Homo sapiens: one gene and its partners. The protein of the gene in region 4 interacts with the protein of the main gene of each other region in a pairwise test. Each region holds a gene or a part of one and is shown on either strand. Other genes may lie near its edges. The genes, in order: GJA1, SPNS1, TMEM94, HTR2C, ATP6AP2, SLC71A1 and TM9SF2.

Region 1 (2,291 bases), on a different chromosome or scaffold from region 4:
AGGTCGCTGGTCCACAATGGCTAGTGGCTGTAATTCATGTCCAGCAGCTAGTTTTTTAGAATTCTGGTTATCATCGGGGAAATCAAAAGGCTGTGCATGGGAGTTAGAGATGGTGCTTCCCGCCTGCCCCATTCGATTTTGTTCTGCACTGTAATTAGCCCAGTTTTGCTCACTTGCTTGCTTGTTGTAATTGCGGCAAGAAGAATTGTTTCTGTCGCCAGTAACCAGCTTGTACCCAGGAGGAGACATAGGCGAGAGGGGAGCGGTTGGTGAGGAGCAGCCATTGAAATAAGCATATTTTTGAGACCCACAGTCTTTGGCAGGGCTCAGCGCACCACTGGTCGCATGGTAAGGGTCGCTCTTTCCCTTAACCCGATCCTTAACGCCCTTGAAGAAAACATAGAAGAGTTCAATGATATTCAAGGCCAGGGACACCAAGGACACCACCAGCATGAAGATGATGAAGATGGTTTTCTCCGTGGGGCGAGAGAGGAAACAGTCCACCTGATGTGGGCAGGGATCTCTTTTGCAAGTGTAAACAGCACTCAAGCTGAATCCATAGATGTACCACTGGATCAGCAAGAAGGCCACCTCAAAGATAGACTTGAAGAGGATACTGATGATGTAGGTTCGCAGCAACCCCCCTCGCATTTTCACCTTACCATGCTCTTCAATACCGTACTTGAACTTCTTTATCTCAATCTGCTTCAAGTGCATGTCCACATTGACACCATCAGTTTGGGCAACCTTGAGTTCTTCCTCTTTCTTGTTCAGTTTCTCTTCCTTTCGCATCACATAGAACACATGAGCCAGGTACAAGAGTGTGGGTACAGACACAAATATGATCTGCAGGACCCAGAAGCGCACATGAGAGATTGGGAAAGACTTGTCATAGCAGACATTTTCACAACCAGGTTGCTGAGTGTTACAACGAAAGGCAGACTGCTCATCTCCCCAGGCTGACTCAACCGCTGTCCCCAGCAGCAGGATTCGGAAAATGAAAAGTACTGACAGCCACACCTTCCCTCCAGCAGTTGAGTAGGCTTGAACCTTGTCAAGGAGTTTGCCTAAGGCGCTCCAGTCACCCATGTTGCCTGGGCACCACCTGAAAGAAACAAAGAGACAATTCAAGGATCACAGATTGCAAATTACTAGTTTAACATTTAGTACCTTTCAGGTGATAGTCAAAATACTACCAACGGTTTCACGTATTTCTAACATTCTTTCACAAAAAACCAAGTGCAAACTCTTCCTGTCCCATTTTTGCCAACGAAGAAAAGATCTAACAAGTGTTTTGTTTTGTTTGTTGAGACAAAGTAAGTCTTAGAAGCAACAGATGATGAGTTGCAGTCTTTAACCTGGGAAGGTGTATTGCTTGCTCAACCACTGCCTTGCTGTGTGACTTGAGAAGCCACCTGTGCTAAGCCTCTGCTCCTTTTATTTGTCTGATAAATGAGGACAGTTTTTGCCTGGTAGATCTGTGTTTGCTAAGCAAAATCCTGATGTGTGTTATTCAAAGCATAGGTATCAAGAATCCAGGTAAGAATACCTATAAACACACATCCATAACCTTCTTTCCAAAACCTTAATGCTATTATATATCATTTTATTACTAATTTCACTCTGAAAGATTTTTTTTTTAAGATGGTGTTTCCCTCTTGTTGCCCAGGCTGGAGTGCAATGGCACAATCTCAGCTCACCACAACTTCCGCCTCTTAGGTTCCAGCGATTCTCCTGCCTCAGCCTCCTAAGTAGCTGGGATTACAGGCATGTGCCATCACGCCTGGCTAATTTTGTATTTTTAGTAGAGATGAGGTTTCTCCATGTTGCTCAGGCTGGTCTCGAACTCCTGACCTCAGGTGATCCATCTACCTCAGCCTCCCAAAGTGCTGGGATTACAGGTGTGAGCCACCACGCCTGGCCTCTGGAAGATTTTTCAATGGTATATCAAGTGTAATTTGTGCATACCCTATATTATTGTCATTTACACTTTTCTGTTTCTTTTTTTAGAGATAGGATTTCACTATGTTGCCCAGGCCCCTGGGCTCAAGAAATCCTCCTGCCTTAGCCTCCCAAGCAATGGTGACTATTTTTTTCTTAAGCAGTGACTTATGTAGCTCAGAAGTCAGCCTTCTGTCCAGAGAAAAAGTAGGCTGTATGGAAATATACTCTTTTGCTACAATGTGTCATTATATGTAGTAACCTACTTTGAAAAACAAAGACTAAATACACATCACACTTCATGTAAAAAGTTCATTTTGTCTCAATACTACTCACAGCCTTATTAAAAA
Region 2 (3,500 bases), on a different chromosome or scaffold from region 4:
TGGGATGTGGGGGTGTTGTGAATTCTGTAAGGAGAAGGCAGGCATCTCCTGTGCTTTAGTGGTTCCAGCTGGGGTGGGAGTGGGAGGTAGGGGTACCTGGGCTGAGCTGTGACTCTCTGCTTCCCCCTAGTGTTCATCTCCAGTTACATGGTGTTGGCACCTGTGTTTGGCTACCTGGGTGACAGGTACAATCGGAAGTATCTCATGTGCGGGGGCATTGCCTTCTGGTCCCTGGTGACACTGGGGTCATCCTTCATCCCCGGAGAGGTGAGGCCCCAAGCTGGCTCCTGTTTCTGCCCACACCCCCTCCCTGTCAGTCTCTGCTGCTGCTCCTTGGAGCTATGGCAGACTGGGCCTCAGGGACTCCTGCAGTTTCCCTGGTCCATGCCATTTTATACCCCTCCTTGCCTGAGTTAACCTGCCCCACCCCATCCTCCCCTTTTCTTCCAGAGCATTCTCTGTCCATTATCCCCTCTTCCCCTGACCACTGACTCCTTCTACTCCATACCTAAACACTCCAAACCCTACCTGGCCTGCCCTCTCTCCCTCCTCTCATTCCTGATCAGACTTCCTGAAGGGCCCCTAGAGCGTGGTGCCAGTGTGGGTAAAAGAGCAGCCGGGGAGATGCCATCACTCTGCCTGCACTTCCTCACGCCTGCTCACCCCTCGAGCGCTGCCACTGACTTCTGCTCCCACCACTCCACGGACCCTGCTCTTGCCAAAGTTAACAGTGGCCTCCTAGTTGCTAAACACAGCTCCAACTTCCTGGTCCTGTTCATGCTAGGAGCCTCTGGCACTGTTGACCCACTCTTCCTTCCTGAAACTCTCTCCTACCTTTGCGATGCCACACTCTTCTGGCTTTCCTCCTGCCTCCCTGGCTGTTGCTTCTTTGTTCCTTTGAAGCCTCCTCTGTCTGTTCTCACTCCACCCCAGAACTCTGTCCTCAGCCCCAGGACCTACGTACTTTCCTTGGGTGACTGTACCCGTCCTTAGCTTCAGGTGCCTTTGGTAGACACATAAACTCCCATCTAAGGTCACTTATTCATTAAAAAAAAAAAATTAAAAAACTTTCCCCTACCAGGCAAGCAGGGGTTGTCTTATTTAGACCTTTTATTGTCTAGTCCTTGCAATAGCTCTGTGAAAAGTTGTTGTTATCCTCCTTTTGCAGATGAGGAAACTGAGGCTCAGAGAGGTTAAGTTATTTTCCCCAAATCGCAGCTAGTAAGTGGTGGAGCCAGGATGCAAGCTCAGGTCTGTGTGATTCTAAAACCCAGGCATCTCCCGCCATCCCTGCTGCCTCTTGGGAGCGGGCTGGTGAGGTAGCCCGGAGGCTGGTTGCAGGCTGGGGTGCCACCTCTCCCCGGTCTCTCTCCCCAGCATTTCTGGCTGCTCCTCCTGACCCGGGGCCTGGTGGGGGTCGGGGAGGCCAGTTATTCCACCATCGCGCCCACTCTCATTGCCGACCTCTTTGTGGCCGACCAGCGGAGCCGGATGCTCAGCATCTTCTACTTTGCCATTCCGGTGGGCAGGTGAGTGGGCCTGGGGCCTGGGGGAAGGCAGAAGGGCCTGGTGTGGGGGACTGGACTGACTGGCTGTCCCCCCTTTTTCCCCTCTCTCCCTCCCACAGTGGTCTGGGCTACATTGCAGGCTCCAAAGTGAAGGATATGGCTGGAGACTGGCACTGGGCTCTGAGGGTGAGTCTGGTCTTGGCCTGGGGGTAGGTCAGCGACGTTCTCACTGATCCCTGTTTCCTACCTTTGGACCCCTTCCCACCGCCCATTTTTCTTTTAAGAGACAGGGTCTTGTTGTGTCACCCAGGCTGCAGTGCAGTGGTGCAGTCATAGCTCACTGTAGCCTGGAACGCCTGAGCTCAAGTGATCCTCCCACCTCAGCCTCCCAAGTAGCTGGGACTATAGGTGCCCGCCACCATGCCTGGCTAATTAAAAAAACTTTTTCTTTTTGTAGGCTGGGTGTGGTGGCTAACACCTGTATCCCAGCATTTTGGGAGGCTGAGGCAGGTGGATCACTTGAGGTCAGGAATTCAAGACCAGCCTGGCCAACATGGTGAAACCCTGTCTCTACTAAAAATACAAAAATTAGCTGGGCGTGGTGGTGCATGCCTGTAATCCCAGCTACTCGGGGGGCTGAGGTAGGAGAATCACTTGAACCCAGGAGGCGGAGGTTGCAGCAAGCTGAGATTGTGCCACTGCACTCTAGCCTGGGCGACAGTGCGAGACTCCTTCTCAAAAAAAAAAAAAAAAAATTTTGCCAGGCATGATGGCTCACGCCTATAATCCCAGCACTTTGGGAGGCTGAGGTGGGCGGATCACCTGAGGTCAGGAGTTCTAGGCCAGCTTGACCAACATGGTGAAACCCTGTCTCTACTAAAAATACATAATTAGCCAGGCATGGTGACGCATGCCTGTAATCTCAGCTACTCGGGAGGCTGAGGCAGGAGAATCGCTTGAACCCGGGAGGCAGAGGTTGCAGTGAGCAGAGATCGTGCCATTGCACACACAAAATTTTTTTTTTTTGTAGAGATGGGGTCTTTGTATGTTGCCCAGGTTGGTTTTGAACTCCTGGCCTCAAGCAATCCTCTTGCCTTGGCCTCCTAAAGTGCTGGGCTTACGGGTGTGAGCCATGCGCCTGGCTCCAAATACCCCTTTTTTGGGGCAGCTCTCATTCTGCTGAGCCTGCAGGAGACTGGCTGCCCTCACCTGGAAGCCATGTGCTAGACAGAATTCTTGCGTGCAGGTGACAGAAGCCCATTGTAAAACTGTAAGCCCCCTAGAGGCCGGGTGCGGTGGCTCACACCTGTAATTCCAGCACTTTGGGAGGCCAAGGTGGGTGGATCACAAGGTCAGGAGATTGAGACCACCCTGGCTAACACAGTGAAATCCCGTCTCTACTAAAAATACAAAAAAAAATTAGCTGGGCGTGGTGGCAGGTGCCTGTAGTCCCAGCTACTCAGGAGGCCGAGGCAGGAGAATGGCGTGAACCCAGTAGGCGGAGGTTGCAGTGAGCCGAGATCGCACCACTGCACTCCAGCCTGGGTGACAGAGTGAGACTCTGTCTCGAAAACAAACAAACAAACAAACAAACAAACCGTAAGCCCCCTAAAGGGGCTGTCTTGGCTTTCTTCCTGAAAGTCCCAGGTGAGCTTCAGTCAGGTAAAGCTGGATCCAGGGCTCCCACACTGCCCTTCTCTTCTGAGCTTTACTTTCCTTTGTGTTAACATCATTCTTAAGGACGTGAGAACTCCAGATGATTACCTTTCCATTTAGCAACATTGGCACCTTGGACCCTGGGGCCGTGTTTCCAGGATAGCGTCTGACTAGATGAACATGCATCACGTGCCCTCTGCGGAATCCGTCACCGAGGCTGGGGTGGTTAACAGTCCTCTTGTTGGCCAAGCCTGGGATCCTATTTAAACCAAGTGGATTGAGAGAAGTAGGGGTACTGGTTTCCCAAAAGAAAATTACCAAAGAGGAGACAAAGCT
Region 3 (3,500 bases), on a different chromosome or scaffold from region 4:
CAAAGGAGGGACACCTCCCTGGCTCTCTGACTACTCCTCTTAGCCTTTTCTCTGCCTTGCTGGAAACTGTCACCTTCCTGAGTGTGGTCCTCATTCTAGGCCGAGCATCTTCCCAGCTGTGTACAGTTGCCTGGTCCTTCCTCTCTTTCTCCCTCCCAGTCTCCATCTCTTGGGTGGACAGCCTTCCCCCTATGCAGGCCAGCTTTTCCTGCCTTCAGTGTGTTTCTCACTTGATCATGTCTGGAGGCCTGGCCCAGGTATGGGCCATTCTGTCCTGGGAACACTCACATTCCTCTCTGTGGCGAGGAAGCTCAGAAGGCTGAGCCTGAGGGGAAGACACTGGAGGCCTGGGGTCTCTGTGTGCAGCCGCCTGTCTCCTAGATCCTCTTCTTCCCTGGGGTGGGAGGAACAGACGTCCATGCCCACAGACAGGAGAAGGCCTATGGTCTCCTCTTCCTGTTTCTCTTCCTCCCTTACAACCCTCCCTGAAGCTTTCCTTCCCTCCATGTCAGGAGCTCCGGGAGGCAGTAGGACAGGTACAGGCATTCATTTGCCCTGGACCATGGCCTCTTTGGGAGGCCTCAGGATCCTTGCCAAAGGGAGGTGGGTGCGTTGGAGCACAGTATTTACCCATGTGGGGGTGTGAGGTCCCCGCCGGGAGGGCCATTTCTTTCTGAGCTGAAATAACCAGTTTATCCCCTCTGGGAAGAGGCGGCTCTTATCTTTATAATCCCCCAAAGCCACTGTGGAGAGCGGGATTAGGTGAGATTTAGGGAAGGGAGCTGGGGAATCCTGGGGCCAGGCCCCGTCCCTCAGGCCAGCACTGGGGGCTCCACTTGAGTGCCTCCTGTGATGCCAGGCTGTGGCAGGGGGCAGCATCCCTGGGCCCAGGAGCCACTCTTACTTATGGGATGTGTGCCCTGCCAGGGCTGAGGCTCAGTTGCCGAGGAGGGGGTATGTGTGGAGACAGGCAGGAAGGAGTAAGCCCAGAAGGCCAGAGGGCACAGCCAGGGCAGGACTCTGGGAGACAGAACTGTGGGCCGCATAGAGGGTGGGGAGAGCAGTGAGACGAGGCAGCCAGGGGTCACCAGCCCCACAGCCTGTGGCTGAGCCTCCTCCATGGCTGCCCCAAATCCCTTTCCTGGTGCCTGAGGTCTAGGGATTCACTCCTCTTGCTCAGGAGGTTTTCCAGAGGGAAGCTCACATGGATGCTTCGCAGGTGGTCCTGGAAAGACTCACTTCTCCTTCAGGCGCTGCCTTTCATGGGGCTCTTCTTTGTCCCAGGGCCTCAGAGCTGGGGTGTGGTGGCTCACGCCTATAATCACAGCACTTTAGCAGGCTGAGGAGGGAGGATTGCTTGAGGTCAGGAGTTTAAGACCAGCCTGGGCAACATATCGAGGCCCCATCTCTACAAAAAAATGCAAAGGGCCAGGCACAGTGGCTCAGGCCTATAATCCTAACACTTTGGGAGGCCAAGGCGGGCAGATTGCCTGAGCTCAGGAGCTCGAGACCAGCCTGGGCAACATGGTGAAACTCGGTCTCTACTAAAATATAAAAAAAAATTAGCCGGGCGTGGCAGCATGTGCCTGTAGTCCCAGCTGCTCGGGAGGCTGAGGCAGGAGAATTTCTTGAACCCAGGAGGCAGAAGTTGCAGTGAGCTGAGATTGCGCCACTGCACTCCAGCCTGGGCAACAGAACGAGACTCTGTCTCAAAAAAGAAAAAAAAAAAAGCAAAGAAAATTAGCTGAGTGTAGTCCCAGCCACTCCATAGGCTGAGGCAGGAAGATCGCTGGAGCCTGAGAGGTGTAAGCTGCAGCGAACCATGCCCACGCCACTGCATCCAGCCTGGGCAGCAGAGCAAGACCCTGTCTCAATTTAAAAATATATATATATGTATGTATGTATGTATGTATGTATGTATGTATGTATGTATGTATAACCTGGAATTCCCTTCATCCCCAGAAATTTTGGTTCAGTAGGTCCGGAGTGGAGCCTAGACATCCACCACATTTTTAAAAGCTGTGGTGTCTAAGATTTTGGGCTGACAGTCCCGATTAAGGTGAAGCCTTGACTAAGCTGCGGAATGCCTCGGGTTGTTCCTGTTGCTGTTTCATTGGGATCATTGCATTCATTCATTCATTCATTTATTCATTCATTCATTCAGCAAGTATTCACTGAGCTTGTGTGTGCCATGCACTGTCTCAGCAGTTGGATGGTGAGGGTGTGTGGAAATGGAAGAATTCAGAGCCTGTTTTTAAGGAATTTGCAGTCTGGCGGGAGAGCCAGCTGTGTCAATCTGTGATTACAGTTCTGTAAGGTGCAGGCTGCAGGCCAGGTTGCCCAGGACACCATTGACATGTAAACCTCCCCTGAAGTGCAGCCCTGGGTTTTGGGAAAATGTCCCAGAGGAGGTGATGTTTGAGCTGAGTCTTGAAGGAGAAGCAAGAGTTGACTGGGGTGGGGCACGTGATTCTCGCTGGGAAACACATCAAGTATGTGAACATGAGCTGAAGGGGCTCGGCTCGTGTCAGGAGGAGCAGGAAAGGAGGCCAGGGAGGCTGGCACATCTGAAGGGTCTCCAGGAGCACACACAAGAATCGGACTTGATTTTAAGGGTAAATAGGTCATTTGACCAACCAGGCAGGCCCTGCTCTGGCCAAGGTGTTCCAGTGGGTTTGGAAAAGTTAGAGACAGTGTGGGGTGGAGTTTGGGCAAGCATAAGGCCAGGGTCAAGAATGTTCTAGAGGTGATTGGGTGAGACAGTCACTGTGAGAGGAAAGGTGACTCTGGCAGTAGAGCCAGGTGGCAAGTTCAAGTTTTTTTCTTTTCTTTTTTTTTTTTTTTGAGACAGAGTCTAGCTCTGTCACCCAGGCTGGAGTGCAGTGGCGTGATCTTGGCTCACTGCAACCTCTGCCTCCCGGTTCAAGTGATTCTCATGCCTCAGCCACCCAAGCAGCTGGGATTACATGCATGCACCACCATGCCCAGCTAATTTTTGTATTTTTAGTAGGGATGGGGTTTCACCATGTTGGCCTGGCCAGGCTGGTCTCAAATGCCTGACCTCAAGTAGTGCACCCATCTCAGCTTCCCAAAGTGCTGGGATTACAGGCGTGAGTTCGGCCCGAGTTCAGGTTTTTGGACACATTGACTCCTAGGTCCCTGTGAAGCAGCTGTAGGCCCGTTCAGCAGACGGGTCCACATTCAGGGTAGCGGTCAGACTTGAAGTAAAATAGGAGTTGTAGGCTTGTTGGTGGCAGGTGACTCTGTGACTGTGGATGAGGTTGCTCTGGAAACCTACAGAGGTTGGTAACGTGTCCTAGGTGGCCTATGGGGTAGACGGATGGGGAAGAACAGTCAGAGTCAACGGAGAAAACAGGAGAGAAGCCAGGAATGGGGGAGTCCTGACAGGGAAAGGCTGGGCCACAAGGTCGCCTAAGATGATGTGGTTGGTCCCTGCGTCGTCGGGGCCTACACTGTCCACACCTTGTCCCATTCATCCT
Region 4 (3,500 bases):
TAATTTTCCTTCATGCTGTCCTATTTTTTTGACCATTTCTATTCTTAGTTATTAGATTACTACTTCAAAGTACATTTTTTAATACCTTAACATGCTTGTTTGCAGATTTTTTTTGAAGTGTTTTGCTAGCATATTCTTCGGCTTGATCATTCTTTATTGGAGGGAATGTTCATCAAATGCCTTCTTTCTATTCTCATATTCTGATTTTTTTCTATAGTAGCTTGGTATAGATGAAGATTGGTTGCATCTCAGAATTTCTATGAACATGACTGACAGTTTGTAGGTAGCTTCCAAAATTCCAAGCTCAAGAGCATCCTCTTTTCTTTGTGTATCAAAGTATGGTTTCTTTACTGGAGGGCCTTTGGGGGACAGTGGGAGACAGTAGAGGGAGGGGTGATGGGTCCTAATATTTTGACATTTTCTGTACTGTAAGATGATAAATTTCCCCCTCTTGCTTCTTTTTCCTTTCACTGTGCTTTTTTTTTTTCAAGTCACCTCTTGCTTCCTTTTTTACCTTTTTCCACCTCCAAAGAGTTAATTTTCCAAGGCTGCTTTCTTGAGTCTTATGCATACTTTTCAGTACCTTATCTGAAAGCTGACCTTCTAGAGAAACTTTTCAGTATTTTCGTACTTGGGGTAGACTTACTTGCTTGTGGTGGTTTTTTTTTTAAATTTTTTTATGGAGTATTGCTCTGTCGCCCAAGCTAGAGTGCAGTGTTGTGATCTCGAGTTGCTGCAACCTCTGCCTCCCAGGTTCAAGCAATTCTCCTGCCTCAGCCTCCCGAGTAGTTGGGATTACAGGCGCCCACCACCACGCCCGGCTAATTTTTTTGTATTTTCAGCAGAGACTGGGTTTCACCCTGTTAGCCAGGCTGGTTTCAAGCTCCTGACCTCAAGTGATCCGCCAGCCTGGGCCTCCCAAAGTGCTAGGATTACAGGCGTGAGTAACCGCGCCCGGCCACCTGTGGTGGTTTTAGATCAATCTTAGGCTTCCTAATAGCTTTCCTCTAGTTTATTTCATGCTATCTTTCCTGGACTACTCTTCTTCTACGCAACAGCATGGGGTAGAAGTCTAATAGATAGTTCAATGTTATTTCCCATTTGTTTTCCTACTTACAGGTAATTTGAAATTTGAATGTTCTCCACACTTAATGGTGGTATTGTGCAGTTTTATTTGTTTTTTATATTGTTCTTTGTTTATTTGGGCAGGGGAATAGATATGTTAAGAGACTTGGATTTATGCTAATATCATTATTTGGCCACTCACATTTTTTTAAAGGGAGAAGCTGGCGAAACAGACACCACAGAACACAGTATACCTTCTAAATCATAGTTTCACTTCATTCCAGTAATCTTTTCTTAATTTTGGAGCAATAGAGTGGTAAAATGCCCACTGAGCAGATAAAATACTAGTGCTTTAAGGCTAATGCATCATTGAAACTCGATGAAGAATATGAAAAGCATATATTCTGAGAACACTTTATAAAATGCCTATTAAGATAATCTACTGTTGCCATAGGTATAGAACAGGCTACTTAATTTTTACATTACATGAGAGATTATTTTCTAGATGCATTTATTTTCTTTTAGGATTCGACAACTAGATACACTTTCAATATTATTTCTTCTAGTCTAATTCCATTATACACTCCAGGCAACTGGAAGTCTATTTTACTCCTTTGTGAGATAAGCATATTAGCAATTAAATTCAAACTGGGCTCTCCAACTTCCTAGTAAAGATACTTTGTAGAGTTGTATAAACTATTTGATTGTTCATCATAAATATTAGCTAGAAACAAAACCTTAGGTTAAAATGAACAGAATGAAGGGATGGAAGAAAATCAAAAGAAAAATTAAAAACCTCTTTAAAATCAATATATTGAAACTTTCAATGCCTGAATTTTTAAAGTGATGATATGAACTTACACTTATATACTTAGTAATTAATTTTGCTATCTCTTGTCTCTTTGTAATAACACAAATTATAGACTCCATGAACAAGAAGAATAGCTATTATTGAGTGCCTGTTTTGTGTCAACCACTTAGTTTGGCAGCTTTAAAAAAGGATTTCTTAAAATATATTTATTAAAGAGGATGAGCCGGTTTTTCCTTCTTTGTATCAGAGATGGTAGTAGGTATGTGTACTGCCCAGAACACAGGGGTTGAAAGATGTTTCTGTTAATGTCTCATTCAGTACATTGTAAGGCAACTAACTGTTCATTCATTGTTTACAAAGACACTAAGCAAGAGAGCATCTATGTATGATTTTAATATATATAAAATGTATGTTTTGCTTTTGGAAGACTGTTACTGATTTGTTTAATAAATATGATACATACATCCAACTCCTTCTGTCACACGATTTGCTTTTTTCTTTTTCCAAATGTTACAAGTAAAATAATTAACTTTATGAGTGTTTACTATGACACAAATTTATGACATTATACGAGATTGAAAAGTGAATAAAATTGTACTTACCATAAAGGATTGCCAGGAGAGACAGGGGCATGACAAGTAGTCCCACTAGCATATCAGCAATGGCTAGGGACATTAAGAAGTAATTGGTGGCATTGTGCAGTTTCTTTTCCATGCTTACTGCCATGATCACAAGGATGTTGCCACCTATTGTCATGATTATTATGATGACGATTGAAAGTGCTGGCCAGTTTTGTACCCCGTCTGGGAATTTGAAGCGTCCACCATCGGAGGTATTGAAAATGTCAGTTACTATAGCTGCTACTGGGCTCACAGAAATATCAGATTGCCAAACCAATAGGCCAATTAGGTGCACACTGAAAATTAAGAAAAAAAAAAACAATCAGGTACATATTATATTACTTATACACAATACGTTGCTCATGCAAAACAACTGCTTCTTCATGGATCATTGTCATCATTATCATCATCAGCATCATTGTCATCATCATTATTTCTACTCTCTTAATTAATCTCAGTATTTCTTCTTTCTCTCCAAAAATCACCAACTTTTATTGAGTGATTATTATGAGTTAGGCACTTAGTTTGCTGAAACATATATGTATAATCTCATTTGATCTTATTAAACAACCTCATGATGTCAGTTCTAATTTATATCCATCACGTAGATGAGAAGACTGAGTAAAGTTCAGAAAGGGTAAGTAACTTTTTCAAGCCTAAACAGCCAGTAAGTGGCGGGGCCAGGGTCCATACTCAGGTCCCACTGATTTCAAAGTCTATGTTTTAAACTTTTACTGCGATCTGAAACCACAGTACTGCTTGATTTGCTGTAATAGTCTATTCTTTATATTTTTAAAATACTGATTCCTTTAGATATGTTCTGAGACAGCTGATAACAGAATGAAGGGGGATTTTCTTAAAGCATCCATGACCCTAACAAGGAAACTGGAAGTTGCATTCTATTGATCCAAGGCTAAGAAGGAATTAAGTTGCCATCAGATCAAATTCCGGCAAAGCGTCTGGAAGAGGTACAGTGGGTTTTGACAAGAATACCCTTTCATTTC
Region 5 (3,500 bases), about 74 Mb from region 4:
AGGAAAGCAGTAAGAGTCAAGAATGGAGCCCTCAGATCTCCAAAGTGGAGTATGCTAGGTGATCCATTTGGATGCCAGATGAATGTACTAGAAATTCCATTTATATCCTTTTTGTTTTTGTTTTTGAGACAGGGTCTCACTCCGTCACCCAGGCTGGAGTGCACTGGTGTGATCACAGCTCACTGCAGCCTCGACCACCCAGGCTCAAGCGATTCTCCCACCTCAGCCTCCCTAGTAGCTGGGACCACAGGCGCATGCCACCATACCCAGCTAATTTTTTGTTTGTTTTTGTAGAGATGAGGTCTCAAACTCTTGGGCTCAAGTGATCCTCCTCCTCAGCCTCCCAAAGTGCTGGGATTACACGCAGGTGTGAGCCATCGCACCCAGCCTCTATCTTTTTTTTTTTTTTTTTCCTTTTTTGAGACAGAGTCTTGCTCTGTCACCCAGGCTGAAGTGCAGTGGCACGATCTCGGCTCACTACAACCTCCGCCTCTGGGGTTCAAGTGATTCTTGTCCCTCAGCCTCCCAAGTAGCTGGGACTACTCTTGTTGCCCAGGCTGGAATGCAATGGCATGATCTTGGCTCACTGCAAGCTCCACCTTCCGGGTTCAAGTGATTCTCCTGCCTCAGTCTCCCGAGTAGCTAGGATTACAGGCATGCACCACCATGCCTGGCTAATTTTGTATTTTTTTAGTGGAGACGGGGTTTCTCCATGTTGGTCAGGCTGGTCTTGAACTCCCAACCTCAGGTGCTCTGCCTCTTGAGTAGCTGGGACTACAGGCATGCACCACCACATCTGTCTAACTTGTGTATTTTTTTGGTAGAGACGGGGTTTCACTATGTTCACCAGACTGGTCTCAAACTCCTGACCTCAAATGATCTGCCTGCCTCAGCCTCTGAAAGTGCTGGGATTACAGGCATGAGCCACCACACCTGGCCTCATTTTTGTATTTTTAGTAGAGATGAGGTTTCGCCATTATGGCCAGGCTGGTCTTGAACTCTTGGCCTCAAGTGATCCGCCTGTCTTGGCCTCCCAAAGTGCTGGGATTACAGGTGTGAGCCATCATGCCTGGCCTATTTTTATCTTATCTCTTTTTGAATAATAATGGTCAGGTATTTTGTAGACTGTCCCTCAATTTGGGTTTATCTGATGTTTTCTCATTATTAGATTGGGAAAAATACTACACAGGTATCTCATCCTTTTAAAAACTTTTATTTTTGTATGCTTTGTAATATAGCACAAATCAAATACATAATCTATTACTATAGTAGAAGTATATACTTTACATGGAGAGGATGAGAGGGACAGAGAGAAGAAAGAAGGGCTACTTTCCAATTTTGGGCTGACAGGGTTGAAATCTAAAAAGTTTGGCTACCACTGCTTTAAAGGACAGGAAGGGAAAGAAACAGAGGAGAAGCAGCCAAAGGGATTGCAAGGAAAACCAGGAGCCGTGGCTGCATGAAGACCAAAGCAGGGGCTTTTCAAGGAGGGAGTTGCCAGTATCAAATGCTTTGGGAAGTTAGATAAAATTAAGGGATGGAAATTGCCTTTTGAGTTTGGGGAGTCGTTTCAGTGGCATGGTGGGCTTGGAAGGTGTGGGCGGCCAGGTGGGGTGGCTCACGCCTGTAATCCCAGCACTTTGGGAGGCCGAGGCAGGCGGATTGTTTGAGGTCAGGAGTTCGAGACCAGTCTGGCCAACGTAGTGAAACCCTGTCTCTACCAAAAAAATACACAAGTTAGCCAGACGTGGTGGTGCGTGCCTGTAGTCCCAGCCACTCAGGAGTCTGAGGCAGGAGAATCTCTTGAACCTGGGAGGTGGAGGTTGCGGTGAGCTGAGATCCTTACCACTGCACTCCAACCTGGGTGACAGCAAGACCCTGTCTCAAAAAATAAAAATAAAAAAAATTTTTAAAATTTTGTGGGTTAAGTAGTAAACTTAAAATGAAGTATAGAAGCAAACGGTGGTTGACTGCTCTTCCTGGATTCTTCCTCTGAAGGGGAGCAAGGCTGGTAGCTGGTGGAGACTGGTAGGACCAAAGGAGGTTTTTTATGGTTTTAGTTATAGAATGGGAGTGCCTTGAGCGTATTTTTATGCTGAAGTGAAAGGGCCAGTGGAGAGGGAAAAAACTGGTGGTTTGAAGTGTGACTTCATTCATTCATTAACTCAACAAGTACTTATTGAGCACCAATGTGTCGGGCTCTGTTCTCAGCCCTGGGGATAGTGTGTGAACAAGACGCACTGAAATCCCCGCCTTCATGGAGCTTGTATTCTATAGGGCCATCTTTTGATGGCTATTACCATATAGCCACCTCACTCCTGATGTGTTGTCTGTCCTAGAAGAGTGGCTTCCTTAACAAACAGTGAAGGAACAAAGGTCCCTAAAAAGACTGAACACAGGATTGTCTTAGTCTGGAGGAGGGACATCCCTGCCCTCATGTCTGGAGGGAGAGGAGTTACAGATAGGGGCTTATGCAGATAAATTTGTGGTGGGGAGAGGAAGCAGGTAGCTCAAGAAATTCCTCTGTTTTCTCTGTGAAGCTGGAGATGAGGTTATCTGGTGAGACTGAGTTGGGGAGTGATAGCATAGGAAGTTGAAAGTTAGGAAGCCCATTTCAGTTCAGTACAAGGAAAAACTTTTCAAAGGACTAGAATGTTAGGAAAATGGAGCCAGTTGCTGGCAAATGTAGTTCGTATATTGAGGTGGTGTCCCCATCACTGGTAGTATTGAAATAGAGGAGGGGTGACTTTCTGCCAGGTATCCCTGAGACATGCTTATACTTATAATAAGCAGAAGTTTGGACAAATGACCTTCCTCTGTATAGGAGTCCCTGACTCTAAGGTTTTCTAAAGCTCTGGGCTTCTGAAGGACTGTTGTACAGGCATGGAAGTTGAAACTACGAAGCTGGGGCAAAGTTATTTGGTATAGGTTTGCCAGAATTGAATGAGTAGGGCCGTGTCTCAAAACAAGGGTATCTCCAAATCAAAATATGGTTTTTTAAATGTGTATGGTACCTGGGGCTGGGCGCGGTGGCTCACGCCTGTAATCCCAGCACATAGGGAGGCTGAGGCGGGCCGATCACTTGAGGTCAGGAGTTTGAGACCAGCTTGGCTAACATGGTGTCACCCTGTCTCTACTGAAAATACAAAATTTAGCCAGGCATGGTGGCACACACCTGTAATCCCAGCTACTTGGGAGGCTGAGGCAGGAGAATTGCTTGAACCTGGCAGGCAGAGGTTGCAGTGAGCCAATATTGTGCCACTGCACTCCAGCCTAGGCGACAGTGTGAGACTCTGTCTCAAAACAAACAAACAAAATATGTGTATGGTTCTTGGGAAGCATAGGTCTCTTGGTTCCCCATTTTTCTTAGTGTTTGCAGTACTACTACTTTAGTGAACCAAGATATCTATCAGTTACAAAAGACCATTCCATTCTGCTAATTTTTTTGGTCTGTCTTCAGCTAGAGCAGTTTGGACATTCCTGTTCTGACAGCTGTGCCG
Region 6 (3,500 bases), on a different chromosome or scaffold from region 4:
GTGATTTAAGTGAAAGTCTTAGACAAGAAAGCTGTGAGTTCTAATTGCTCAAAAATCCTTGAATGAATCATTTGCTTTTCACTGGCATATTTGTGATTAAATTCTTAAGTGGCCATCTCAATTTAAAGAATTCAAAACTTATATTTTATGAGTTTTAAAGTGTCAGCCCATCATAAAATAGTGATTTCCTGAATTATTTTTACTTGTCTATGGACTTACTAGCTATCTTATGTAGTATATTAAAAACGTTAGTTAGAATAGCAAAAAAAAATTTTCTAATGTTCCCAAATCACTGCTGAACTTTGTTGACTTTGAAAGAAAAAGGAGGCACAAGAAAACCCACCCACTGATAATATTGTTTATTAACCGCTGATTATTGCCAGGCACAATTCTAAGAACTTTATGTAAATATATCTCATTTAATTCCCATGACAAGGTTTTGAAATAGGTGCTGTTATCCCCATTTGCAAAGAGACAAAAGTGAGGCTCAAAGTGAAGTGACTTGCTGAGAGCCACACAAAGCCAAGATTATGATCCAGGCTGTTTTTCTAAAGTCTGCTGTATAGTATACTGCATTTATCCCAAATCAAGCTTATTAATTTACTGTTTATAAAAGGCATCATGGTTTCAACAACAGATTAACTTAGGTAAATAATATATGGGTAATCATTGTTCTGTTAGTTTTTCTTTAGTTGTGGAAATAAGCATTTTAGACTAACTTGGACCTAAACAAGCTTTAAGGCTATTATGTAATGGGGATCTCCAAATCATTAGTTAGAACTTTTGACCCTTCCATTTTCAACTACTGATTTAAGTGGTCCTCAGTAGAAATGTACTGAATAGGAAGTTTTATCTTTCAGTTTTCTAACTCTCAGTCTGGATCTATGTCAGCAGAGGGACTTTTCATCTGCTTATGTGACCTGGACTAGTGATCTCAGACATATTCAGGGCAATTATTGCTGAAAATCAGCCAAATTGTAGAAAAGTGCCAATAGTCCTTTTATAGTGTAGATTGAAAGAAGTCACTTTTTAAAACTTTATTCTGATAAATCTTTTTTTTTTTTTTTCAGACCATAGTCTTGAGTTTACTTATGAGGTCAATTGGAAATAAGAACACCATTTTACTGGGTCTAGGATTTCAAATATTACAGTTGGCATGGTATGGCTTTGGTTCAGAACCTTGGTAAGTATAAATATTTTAATGTTAATATTTTTAATTTTGGTGTTAGCCCTTGTGTTTTTATTTGCTTCTCAACTGAGGGGTAGACTGTAATCTGTCTCATACTATGCTTTTTATCTTTCAAAATGTGTCTAATATAAGTCTGCCACTTGTATATTTATATGTTCTCCTAGAATGGCTTGAGGATTAAAAAGGTGACCTTTTATAGCTAAATGACAGGCTGAATTTTTGAATGAGATTATACAGCTTTTGAATCTTTAAGGAGCATTTAATCTAAATCAGTCCGTTACTAGGAAAAAGTATGTAATCCCATAGCAACAAGGCCCTGAAAGTTATTTACATTTTTTGTTTTTCTGGTCAGGAAAAAGAAAGTTGTATAACCAGTGATCATTACTGATAGCAAACCAGAAGTGAAAACAATCCAGTTATTTTGGTGCCAGCTTCATGCTGTGTCTCAGCTTTTCTGACCAGTCGGGTTTCCTGCAGGGGACTTGAGTAGTGACGCTTGTTGTCAGGCTGCCCACGTAGATAGTATTATTGTGCTCAGGCATTATGGCACTGAACTCCATGGTTTGCACTAATATTTCAAACAACTGACTGCCTCGTCTCTGTTTGGACTTGGATATAAGCAAGCATCAAGAGGGTGATGATTTGTTCTCCAAACTAGCCTTTGCAAAGAGGTGCTCACAATTGAAATTACCTAAAACATTTCTTTTAAACATCAAGCCAGGAACATCCAAGTTACTTGTTCTTTACAATTTAAGGATTAGATCAAATCAGCGATATCTTCACAAATCCATCCATAAGAACTTTGCCAAAGACTTGTTGGCTTCATGTGTTTGGAAATATTTGATGATGTTTCGTCATCTATATTATACATTATCCTCAATATAACCTCTCAATTGCCTGTAGAAATAATACCCAGCACATTTTACAGTTTGGAACATGATATCCCTATTTTACATTACACCCTCACAGCACTCTTGTGAATTAAGTTGCTGTCTTTGTATACAGGGTCAGATTGTTAAGCGACTTGCCCATAGTCACCTAGTAAGCAAGTTCAGTTCTCCTTTTCTCTACAGCCATTTCACAGTAAGAATTACTTAATTATGTAGTTTGACTTTCAGGTACAGTGGAGAAGAATTTACTGTTTTTGTTTTGCTGCTCTCCTTATAGGATGATGTGGGCTGCTGGGGCAGTAGCAGCCATGTCTAGCATCACCTTTCCTGCTGTCAGTGCACTTGTTTCACGAACTGCTGATGCTGATCAACAGGGTGAGTTGATAGGAACTAGCGATAATTATTTAAAAGTACAGAATGTTCTAATCCTGTGTTCTGTCTCCTATGTACTGAAACATAAGTATATCTTCAGGGTAGAGACTTTTAAAATTGCTTTTGATATAAACAGGAAAAGCAGATTCTAGGGTATTTATCCTTAGGTAGATACATATTCCCTTTTCTCTCACTTAGAATATGTGGCTTATCTGTTCTGTTCATAGAAAATTTACTGATGAGGCTGGGCATGGTGGCTCACACCTGTAATCCCAACACTTTGAGAGGCCGAGGCAGGCAGATTGCTTGAGTTCAGGAGTTGGAGACCAGCCTGGGCAACATGGGGAAACCCCATCACTAAAATGCAAAAATTAGCTGGGCAGGGTGGCGCATGCTTGTAGTCCCAGTTACTTGGGAGGCTGAGGTTGGAGGATCACTTGAGTCTCAGAGGCGGAGGTTGCACTGAGCCAAAATCAGGCCAGTGAACTCCAACCTGGGCGACACAGTGAGAGACCTTGAGAGACCTGTCTCAAAAAAATTTACTGATGAATGTTGGCCACAGAATATTAACTAAGCATTAAGTTTTTGCTGTGTTGTGCTAGACACCTTGTGGGATATATTCATAGACCTTTTATGAATGTTGTCCCAGCCACTTGGGAAGCTGAGGCAGGAGGATTACTTGAGCTCAAGAGTTTGAAGCTAGCTTAGGCAACACAGCAAGACTCCCATCTCTAATAAAAAAAAAAAAAGAAATCATATAGTTTCAGTCATCTGAAGATATGTAACACAGCAACATCTTTAATGTCATATGCTCTCTTTTTTTTTTTTGGTGGGAACATTTAATTCTTGGGATGCTAACAGATGACAAATACTTCTTTGAAAAGGATATGTTTTGTCTAGTCATAAGGATAAAAGGGGCACTGCAAAACAGTGGCAGTTGTCACTTGGTTGATAAATGAGGAAGGAAAGGCCTATGGCCAAAGCAAGTTGCATTTTAAATTAAAGATCCAAAAGAGAGAAACAAAAATCAAATGCTGTTAAAACAGTGT
Region 7 (4,077 bases), on a different chromosome or scaffold from region 4:
TAATAAATCATCTATAAAACAGCAGTAGCCAGTGAAACAAGGAATGACTGTTTTTGTGCCCTGTGTGTCCATAAATGCATATACAGAATAATTTATTCCTAGCCTACACACAAAAAATAACGATCATTGTGAATATCTGTTGTTTTTCCAGACATATGATACAGAAAATGATAGCTTAACCATCACCTAAATTTTATTTATTTTTATTTATTTTATTTTTATTTTTTTGAGACGGAGTCTCACTCTTTTGCCCAGGCTGGAGTGCAGTGGCGCGATCTCAGCTCACTGCAAACTCTGCCTCCCAGGTTCACGCCATTCTCCTGCCTCAGCCTCCCGAGTAGCTGGGACTACAGGCGCCCGCCACTGCGCCCGGCTAATTTTTTTTATTTTTAGTAGAGATGGGGTTTCACCATGTTAGCCAGGATGGTCTCGAACCCCTGACCTCAGACGATCTGCCCGCCTTGGCCTCCCGAAGTGCTCGGATTGGGCGTGAGCCACTGCGCCCAGCTGATTTTGTTTTTTAAAGTGTTATATTTTCATTCATTCAGAGTTGAATTTTGTAATCTGAATTATGGAGTCATATCAAATGGAACCAACCAGTTAAACCAGTAACTTATAGTGTATTTCACTTTCTTCAATTGTATTTTTCCTTTAGTGAACAGGTGGAAGCATTCTGGATAAGGGAGTAGTGAGCCCTTTAAATGCCTTACCTTTCTCTAAAATAGGGTATGGTCTGTATTTGCTTCAGTACTCCAGAGCAATGCCATTTTATTGTATTTAAGTCAATCCATTTTACAAAACAGAAGTAATTATTCTGTCACAAAAGGAAAGACGCCACTTTTAGTACGTACATATATTCCATATTAAGAACAAAATTAAGTAACTAAACTTAAGTTTCTTAGAGTTGCCTGGATAGTGATTAAATGTTCTTCTCATCTTAAAATATTGTTTGTCATCTTGAAATTTATGCAAGTAAGTACAAAGTTATATAAATATACTGAGTTTTCATTATTGCTTTTCTGAAATTAACCCCAGCCCTAGCCTGAATAATTATCCTTTTGACTATGCAAAAGGTATATTTGTATGTCCTCCAAAACACACATTGTGCTTTGCATATAGTAGGGCCTCAATACATGTACAATGTAAGGATGGATATAATGATGTTTGTAATTTCCCACGGTAATGTCCCATGTATAGTCTCTTGATTTAGAAAATCTCCTTTAATATTTTCTCAGAGTACTGCATTTAAAACAATGGTGAAAACTATTGGGACTTTAAATGTAAAATTTATACAAGGATTATTTATAGTCCCTTATGTGTGCATGTGCAAGGAGTACTATGCTTGAAGTCAGAAAAAACGCATTTGATTTCTGGCCACAAGTACCATCCATGTGACCATGAGACAGTCACTTAACCCCTTTGAACCTCATTTTTGTCTCATTGAAAGAGTGTCCCCATCTAGCATTCAAATTCTTTGGAATCTAGACTGATACCTGAAAATCAAGCCATACATTGTTTTCATGAATTATCTCATTTACTCTACATAATAGTCTATGGAGGCAATGAGGACAGATAAATTTCTCCCTAGTTAATATGATAAATGGGCTTGGAGATGTCAGTGGACTTGCCCAAGGATGACACACACAGTTTGTGACAGAGCTGCTCTGTTCTCTGCTACCATGCTGTCCCTCATTTTCAGCTAGGATGCATTTTTGTTACTATCTAATCATGTCACTTTTAACATTTTGTAAAAACTTACTGAGTTATTTTATTATAATTCTTTGAAGACTGATAACTTCCAATAACTGTACTTAGAAAATATCCCCATTTAATCATTATTTGAACCTGTTTTAATGTATTCATCTCATACCTTAAAAAATTCTAGTAGCGTTTTCCATTTTGTTGTAAAATATTCTTAAATAGGAAAGGACAGTTGACATCCTTCAGTCTTTTCTATGTAGTAAGGAAAATAATGTGTATTGTAGAAAGCTTAGGTAATCTTATAGTAGAAAAAAGTTCTACCAATTTTTGTAAGAAACTTGATTTGAGGTGGTCGTATATTTTTCAGACGTGCTCATAGATCTGTAGTATATTCCCGGTGGGTAATAGTTTATAGTTTTGCGACTTTTTTAAGGAACCAGTCATTGTAAGTCTGTATTTTTGTGTAAAGTATGAAACTTCCTTTGAAAAGGGGTTTATTTTTATTTTTTCTCTTATAGGAACAATTGGCTTCTTTGCATGCTTTTGGTTTGTTACCAAAATATACAGTGTGGTGAAGGTTGACTGAAGAAGTCCAGTGTGTCCAGTTAAAACAGAAATAAATTAAACTCTTCATCAACAAAGACCTGTTTTTGTGACTGCCTTGAGTTTTATCAGAATTATTGGCCTAGTAATCCTTCAGAAACACCGTAATTCTAAATAAACCTCTTCCCATACACCTTTCCCCCATAAGATGTGTCTTCAACACTATAAAGCATTTGTATTGTGATTTGATTAAGTATATATTTGGTTGTTCTCAATGAAGAGCAAATTTAAATATTATGTGCATTTGTAAATACAGTAGCTATAAAATTTTCCATACTTCTAATGGCAGAATAGAGGAGGCCATATTAAATAATACTGATGAAAGGCAGGACACTGCATTGTAAATAGGATTTTCTAGGCTCGGTAGGCAGAAAGAATTATTTTTCTTTGAAGGAAATAACTTTTTATCATGGTAATTTTGAAGGATGATTCCTATGATGTGTTCACCAGGGGAATGTGGCTTTTAAAGAAAATCTTCTATTGGTTGTAACTGTTCATATCTTCTTACTTTTCTGTGTTGACTTCATTATTCCCATGGTATTGGCCTTTTAAACTATGTGCCTCTGAGTCTTTCAATTTATAAATTTGTTATCTTAATAAATATTATAAAAATGTCTTCATTGCATCATTACCTATTATATATTCAAGGAGGTTCTGTAAATACAGATCTATTTACCAAGGTGTTTTGAAATGATTTATACTATTTTATCAGATTTTACTGGATTTTGTTAATGTAACACTTTCTGAGTTTTGATCTGAATGGAATTTCACTGTGTAAGGCATTGTCTAAAATGTTCACTGTGAGGCAGTAGAGGAGGTTGAAGTCATGCATATCTAGACAGATGAATTATCTGCAAGTACTTAAGGTGGAGCCTTACTACATTGTCATTAAGGAGTTTCTATTTTTGACTTGTTTTTCAAAATACAGTGTTTTAAGTCAGGTTTTATTACCTGGACATTAGCAATCACTAGCAAGTCTTCATCTTTATGATTTCATTGTTTTAATTTAGATTTCACAAACAGTTTTACTTCTAAGAGTTAAGAAATGCACTGTCTTTCACATTCATCTGACTAATTGAAATCCATTTATGTAGAATATAGGAATGGGGGGTGATTCTGAAGTATCGGTCTGCTTGTATCTGTGAGCATATTCATTTGTATTTTAGGGTCTCTCTGCTTGCTGCTTAGGAGAGCAAATCAGATACTGTCATTAAACTTACAACTAAAATTACTAGCTGTCACTTATATGATATTGCTGGGTTCTTACTGAATAATTTTTTTTTTTTTTTGAGACAGAGTTTCCTTCTTGTTGCCCAGGCTGGAGTGCAATGGCGAGATCTCGGCTCACCACAACCTCCGCCTCCCAGGTTCAAGCAATTCTCCTGCCTCAGCCTCCTGAGTAGCTGGGATTACAGGCATGTGCCACCACGCCCGGCTAATTTTGTATTTTTAGTAGAGACGGCATTTCTCCATGTTGGTCACACTGGTTTCAAACTCCTGACCTCAGGTGATCTGCCCGCCTCGGCCTCCCAAAGTGCTGGGATTACAGGTGTGAGCCACTGCGCCCAGCCTTACTGAATAATTTTATGTCACTGTCCTTTTTTAAAAAAACGGACCTGTTGGTTTTGAAGAGTAAAGGAGGAGCTCTGTTCATTTTTAACATGGAATATTTAAGATAGAAGAGTTTCTTTCAGTTTTATGTATCTCTTGTATTTATTTTTTATGGGTAGAGTTGTCCCTTAGTATTTATGGGAGATTGGTTCCAGAACCCTT

The links.
Region 1: the proteins of HTR2C (region 4) and GJA1 interact in a two-hybrid assay, tested with the Homo sapiens proteins (one large-scale study listed by BioGRID and IntAct).
Region 2: the proteins of HTR2C (region 4) and SPNS1 interact in a two-hybrid assay, tested with the Homo sapiens proteins (one large-scale study listed by BioGRID and IntAct).
Region 3: the proteins of HTR2C (region 4) and TMEM94 interact in a two-hybrid assay, tested with the Homo sapiens proteins (one large-scale study listed by BioGRID and IntAct).
Region 5: the proteins of HTR2C (region 4) and ATP6AP2 interact in a two-hybrid assay, tested with the Homo sapiens proteins (one large-scale study listed by BioGRID and IntAct).
Region 6: the proteins of HTR2C (region 4) and SLC71A1 interact in a two-hybrid assay, tested with the Homo sapiens proteins (one large-scale study listed by BioGRID and IntAct).
Region 7: the proteins of HTR2C (region 4) and TM9SF2 interact in a two-hybrid assay, tested with the Homo sapiens proteins (one large-scale study listed by BioGRID and IntAct).

Annotation. Positions count from the first base shown.
Region 1 is NC_000006.12:121,445,646-121,447,936, reverse strand, and holds part of GJA1 (gap junction alpha-1 protein), read right to left. Parts: intron 1,106-2,291; 5' UTR 1,090-1,105; coding exon 1-1,089. UniProt on the Homo sapiens protein: Gap junction protein that acts as a regulator of bladder capacity. A gap junction consists of a cluster of closely packed pairs of transmembrane channels, the connexons, through which materials of low MW diffuse from one cell to a neighboring cell.
Region 2 is NC_000016.10:28,977,778-28,981,277, forward strand, and holds part of SPNS1 (protein spinster homolog 1), read left to right. Parts: intron 1-130; coding exon 131-267; intron 268-1,377; coding exon 1,378-1,529; intron 1,530-1,627; coding exon 1,628-1,694; intron 1,695-3,500. UniProt on the Homo sapiens protein: Plays a critical role in the phospholipid salvage pathway from lysosomes to the cytosol.
Region 3 is NC_000017.11:75,480,635-75,484,134, forward strand, and holds part of TMEM94 (transmembrane protein 94), read left to right. Parts: intron 1-3,500. UniProt on the Homo sapiens protein: Could function in the uptake of Mg(2+) from the cytosol into the endoplasmic reticulum and regulate intracellular Mg(2+) homeostasis.
Region 4 is NC_000023.11:114,730,586-114,734,085, reverse strand, and holds part of HTR2C (5-hydroxytryptamine receptor 2C isoform a precursor), read right to left. Parts: intron 3,465-3,500; exon of another isoform or gene 3,310-3,464; intron 2,793-3,309; coding exon 2,479-2,792; intron 1-2,478. UniProt on the Homo sapiens protein: G-protein coupled receptor for 5-hydroxytryptamine (serotonin).
Region 5 is NC_000023.11:40,583,970-40,587,469, forward strand, and holds part of ATP6AP2 (renin receptor precursor), read left to right. Parts: intron 1-3,500. UniProt on the Homo sapiens protein: Multifunctional protein which functions as a renin, prorenin cellular receptor and is involved in the assembly of the lysosomal proton-transporting V-type ATPase (V-ATPase) and the acidification of the endo-lysosomal system.
Region 6 is NC_000001.11:100,076,095-100,079,594, forward strand, and holds part of SLC71A1 (hippocampus abundant transcript 1 protein), read left to right. Parts: intron 1-1,070; coding exon 1,071-1,183; intron 1,184-2,356; coding exon 2,357-2,454; intron 2,455-3,500.
Region 7 is NC_000013.11:99,560,472-99,564,548, forward strand, and holds the end of TM9SF2 (transmembrane 9 superfamily member 2 precursor), read left to right. Parts: intron 1-2,219; coding exon 2,220-2,287; 3' UTR 2,288-3,577; downstream 3,578-4,077. UniProt on the Homo sapiens protein: In the intracellular compartments, may function as a channel or small molecule transporter.